2 separate regions of the Homo sapiens genome follow, and region 2 is linked to region 1. Evidence: fine-mapped expression QTL. A gene starts in region 1. The other region holds a variant in brackets. All regions are shown on one strand. Distances are between the middles of the regions.

What was found.
Region 2: its variant is fine-mapped to the expression of MAGEL2 in lung (TOPMed, PIP above 0.99).

What each region holds. Positions count from the first base shown.
Region 1 is chr15:23,646,263-23,649,177 of GRCh38, reverse strand. MAGEL2 (MAGE family member L2) reads left to right here and starts at 1,311. Exons shown (of 1, transcript NM_019066.5): 1 at 1,311-2,915. The coding sequence starts at 1,436. RefSeq lists an enhancer at 2,024-2,868.
Region 2 is chr15:23,854,065-23,856,979 of GRCh38, reverse strand. No RefSeq gene overlaps it. Among named protein-coding and RNA genes, the nearest start is that of PWRN4, 120 kb to the left of the region's middle. The variant G/T (reference allele first, on the strand shown) is at 1,588.

The DNA.
Region 1 (2,915 bases):
GAGGACCCCTGGCTAAGGGTACCTGGGAAGGAGTGGGGTGTACCCTTCATCGTCCTCATCTGCCCCCTGGTGGCACGTTTTGTCACTCTGGACTCCTGCCGTAGGCTGCCAACAGCCTATTTAAACGAAACATCCTTGATATTTAGTGCTTTGTATATTTCCAGAAAGCTTTTCAATTACTGAGATTATCACTTCCTCTCACCATAAAGTTGTATAGCATTGCCCAATAATACTATTGTCATCTGCTTTATCTGTTAATACTTGATTTGTCTCATATTTAAACTGATTTTTGTCACGAGAAGTTTCCCCAGAAATTTTTTTATTCTTTGCCTGTTTTTCCTATATATCCAAATATATCAATTTTTGATCTATTTATATACCCATTTTGTTATCTTCAGGTGCGTTATTTGGTTTTCATTTTTTAAATTTCTTTCCCATTCTGCAGATGAAAAATACTGAGAAACCTACTCTGTTCCTGCATCCGAGCCATTCCACAGGCAGTTTTCCCATACTAAAAATGCTGTCTTCCACTGATGTGTGGCATGTCTCAGTTCCGTGACTTCTTTTCCTCTCTCTCTACTCGCTGCTGTCCCTTTTCTCCATGTGTCTCTAACATGCCTGTGTTCTTCAAGACCCAGTGCAACCACATTCCCTCCCACAACTCTATTTTCATGAGGAATAGCCAAGCAGGACTCCCAAGACATCATACAGGAGTGCCTACAGGGTATCTCTCCTTGGCAGTCCCACAGCACCGCAAATGCCCTGTGTCTGCCAATACTCATCAGCCTCTCTTCCCGTGTGCCTCTCCTGGGACCCTAAGAGAGTAACAGTCCCTGCAACTTCCCACTTTCTCCAGGCAGGGACTTGTGTGCCTTTTCCATGTCTTTGACTCCTTTATTCAATTATAATACAGGTATCTGTCTGCTATAACTCCTGGAACTCTCTTATGTAAATGCGCTTTTTTCATTCTCCGCCTCACATCTTAGCCCAGACCACACCATCTCCCCCCGCCGTCTTGGATACCTTCCATGTTTCCAGTGGTCTGCTCCCACTCCACACTGCAGTACAGTGATTTTTCTAAAACATGGATGGGTTCCTGTCACTCCCCTGTGAAAAGTCATCCATGTGGAGTCTGACTGGTCTGCATTTGGGGACTGGACAGAGTGAGAAGGGATCCTGTGTCAGCCAGGACTCCGGTAGACGCCCCTATGCAATATCCACTTGTGGTGGTCGGGGGCGGGGAAGGGGCGGGATTGAGCCCCCTTCCCCCCTCCTCCTTACTGCGGAAAGCTGCGGAGCGAGCAGCACTCACTTCCTATTCAGCATTCAGCAGGGAGGGAGCCTCTGAACAGCCACGTAGGCATTCTCTTCTCTCTGGAGGAAAAGGCCCAGCAGCTGTCCGAGGAAAAGACCCACCAGCTGTCAGCAAAGGGACATGTCGCAGCTAAGTAAGAATCTGGGTGACTCGAGTCCTCCGGCGGAGGCCCCGAAGCCGCCTGTCTATAGCCGCCCTACGGTTCTGATGCGGGCCCCGCCCGCTTCCTCCCGGGCTCCGCCAGTCCCTTGGGATCCACCTCCAATTGACTTGCAGGCTTCATTGGCCGCTTGGCAGGCACCTCAGCCTGCCTGGGAGGCCCCACAGGGCCAGCTGCCCGCCCCGGTGGTTCCGATGACCCAGCCTCCTGCCCTAGGGGGCCCGATAGTCCCGGCTCCCCCGCTGGGGGGCCCGATGGGTAAGCCTCCGACTCCCGGGGTCCTGATGGTGCATCCTCCACCTCCGGGAGCCCCGATGGCCCAGCCTCCGACCCCGGGAGTCCTGATGGTGCATCCTTCAGCTCCCGGAGCTCCCATGGCCCATCCTCCTCCTCCGGGGACCCCAATGTCCCACCCTCCCCCTCCGGGGACCCCAATGGCCCATCCTCCTCCTCCGGGGACCCCGATGGCCCATCCTCCTCCTCCGGGGACCCCGATGGTGCATCCTCCTCCTCCGGGGACCCCGATGGCTCATCCTCCCCCTCCGGGGACACCGATGGCTCATCCTCCCCCTCCGGGGACACCGATGGCTCATCCTCCACCTCCGGGGACACCGATGGCTCATCCTCCCCCTCCGGGTACACCGATGGCCCAGCCTCCAGCTCCGGGAGTCCTGATGGCCCAGCCTCTGACTCCGGGAGTCCTGATGGTCCAGCCTGCTGCTCCGGGAGCACCGATGGTCCAGCCGCCTCCAGCAGCCATGATGACCCAGCCTCAGCCTTCAGGAGCACCGATGGCCAAGCCTCCAGGTCCAGGAGTCCTGATGATTCATCCTCCAGGTGCGAGAGCTCCGATGACCCAGCCTCCAGCTTCAGGAGCACCGATGGCACAGCCGGCGGCCCCACCTGCACAGCCGATGGCCCCACCTGCACAGCCGATGGCTTCTTGGGCCCCGCAGGCTCAGCCTCTGATCCTGCAAATCCAGTCTCAAGTTATAAGGGCTCCTCCGCAGGTTCCCCAGGGCCCGCAGGCACCCCCAGCGCAGCTAGCCACACCCCCGGGCTGGCAGGCGACCTCGCCAGGATGGCAGGCCACGCAGCAAGGCTGGCAGGCCACTCCCCTGACTTGGCAGACCACGCAGGTCACCTGGCAGGCACCAGCCGTTACCTGGCAGGTGCCGCCGCCCATGCGCCAGGGGCCCCCGCCCATCCGCCCTGGCCCACCACCCATCCGCCCTGGCCCACCACCGGTGCGACAGGCCCCACCGCTGATCCGCCAGGCCCCACCGGTGATCCGCCAGGCCCCACCCGTGATCCGCCAGGCCCCACCCGTGATCCGCCAGGCCCCCGCTGTGATCCGCCAGGCCCCACCTGTGATCCGCCAGGCCCCACCTGTGATCCGCCAGGCTCCACCTGTGATCCGCCAGGCCCCGCCGCTGATCC
Region 2 (2,915 bases), 210 kb before region 1:
CCCATTATCCCAACCAGTAATCACAGTCTTGGGGAAATAAAACTTTTCTTGGGGACCTGCCATGTTGGAATCTCCATAAATAAGTCAGATAGGGCAGCCTAAGAAAGGTTTACTTAAATGAATGATATAAAATGGCTAAAATTTTGCATCAGAAAAAAAGACTTTAAATGACAAGAATGGTCAATTAGAAAAATATTCCCTCAAAATTTATCCTGAATTTAGCTGTTATTACATTATGAGAAAAAATCTGCCAAAAGTGGTTTCATTGGAAGAACTTTTGACTGCTGGTACCTACAAAGATTCTGATTTACAGATTTTCTAGTTGATTACTTCTGAAGATTCTATAAATATGAATAATAAGATAAAAAATTAGATTTGTGTTTCATCCAAGTGTACATCAAAAGTTATTCAAGCAATTTGGAATCTTCTAAATAGGATAAAGTTGAAACATTGAAAATATTGTGTTGCAATATTTGGCTAACATTTGAAAAAATGACAGCTAAATCTCTATTTTAAATCCTTTCTAAAGTAAATCCCAGTGGTATAAAATCAGCAAAAGGTAGCGTAAAAAAATAGTGAAAAGGAAAGGAAAGCCATCTTGGTGGAGATATCAGCAACTTTTATAACTAGATTACATAAGAGACCTCTATGCATCAGTAAGAGAAAAAGTCATAAGCCAGGGGAGATGGACAAATTATTTGAAAAACTACCACAACATAGGAGAGGATTAAACATGTTCACTGGCAAGTTGTATTTCCATGTTGTCCTTCTACAACAATGTACCCAAGCACACATTGCTGCCCTGTGAACACCAAGGACATCCGCCAGAGGTCGGGGTCACCAGGACGCTGACATTCTGGAAGTAAACAACGTTAATGGACAGTAAGTAAATCATTTTATTTTCCAAACCTTTAATTGTTTTTTATGATTGTGAATGTATTTTTATGCTTTAAGACTTCCTTATATAAAGCACTGTAGGAAAATTTTAAATGACAGATAAATGAAAAAAGTTTTGTTACCTTTATCTGCAGGGAGTTGGAGGTGTCACAAGTTATAAACATTGGAACATTTGTGAAATAAATATTTTGAAACAATTAAAATGTTACAGACTTTTCAGATCATATATCAGGAGTATATGCAGAAAAACATGAGAAGTACATTCCCCATATTTCACAGTAAAAATGGAGATGCATATATTTTTCCAATACAGAATAGTTTTATGTTCACCCTCACCAAACAACTCTTGACCAAATATTTAATGAATATGAGTTTTAGGGTCACATTATCATTAGTTCTCTTATGTCTCTGTCCTACCCAAACATAGAAATGTCCACCCTAGGGTCTCACTCCTATTCAGGCATCCAGCTGGACCTATCCATCCACAAAGCCTTCTCTGGGCTCCTGGCCAGGGCAGGAATAGAGCCTGGGATGGTATGTCTTTCAGAGTCACTGAAATATGTCAGAGGTTACCACGTGCTCCCTCAGGATTTCTGGGGGTTAGGAATAGAGCACGAGAATGTTTATTTGTGGTTTGTTAAGTTTCTTACAGAAGTCTGAATTGGAAACAGTGTCCTCTGACCCTCCTCA[G/T]GAGAGAGCGTGGTGTAAAGGGAGATAAAGTGTCTCTTCCTGTGGTCACAGAGCCTTCACTTTCGAGCCTGCTTTTAAGGGGTTTCCGTTCCTATCCCTCCAACCAAAGACTCTTGCCTAGTCCTCTGCTTTCCTTCATGTTGTGGAATCTAAGGGACACGTGTCACTGCTCATCTGAGTTGACCATACAGCAACCCTTGACTGCCAGCAGACCCTCTCCTGCCCACATCTCTGCATGCTCCTGGGCTTCAAGAAAACACTAGCCAGGACTTTTCTGCCTCTTTTTCCTGCACTCTCAAGGCTCTGCTGTCCTTGAATGAAGTCATACTCCCGCTTTTGAGCTCATCATTCACTTCTTGTGAAATCCCAGCTTCATGTTTGTTCCTGACTGCAAACCTTCACCTATTTGAGTCCTCCCTGCACCAAGGGCAGGGGCCCAGCAAGATTTGAAGGGGTGGGAGTGGTGGAGGGAGAGAGTACTCTCCTTCTCTGATCCCCTTGGCAACTCTTTTCTGGATGCCTGGTGTGAGCTTTGCTGAAGGGGCAGGGAGTCTGCAGGAAAGCGGCTCTGAAAGCCACAGACTTCCTCAACAGATGCAATTAGCACGTCCTGGATTATACTAGACTAGACTAGAGTGTGATGCCCCCAGCACAGGCCCTCCCTCCTCCCCTCACCCCAGGTCCATGTCCCAGCCAATGGGGGCCTCTGGTGGTCACAGAGGAATGGAGATGACCAGGTGCACATACCGATTTTTTTTTTCTGCTGAGCTGTTTATTCAGCCTTTCAGAATCTTCTTGTCACCCACCTTTAAATAACTCCCTTATGAAAAGCAGCTGCCCTTCCTTTCCATGGTTATCTGGGTGCATTTTTTACCCTCTGTGAATCCCATATCTCTTCCAGGTTTGCTTGATTGGGGTATTCACTTAATAGCTAGCGACTGACTCCTCTTTGTCTTTGGCTACTACAGTCTGTCTCTCCTAGTGGCACACATCCATATACTTTATGGCAGGACAGGGCATGATCTGGGGAGGGACTTCAAGGAGAGAACACAAGGGGCCTCTGGGCTGCTGGGGATGCTGTTTTTCTGGATCTGGGTGTTGGATACACAAGCGTGTTCACCTTGTGAAAATTCACTGTGTTTACCCTTAGAGTATTCAATTTTATGTAGTTTTCTTAAAAGAAAGCCAACAAGCAAATGAATTAGCAAAAAATAATAAACCAAAATATGAAACAGAAACAAAAAATTACTTAGGGGCTTAAGCAGAGAAACAATCCAGCAAAAACACACACACACACAGAGACACACACACACCACCCCCCACACATA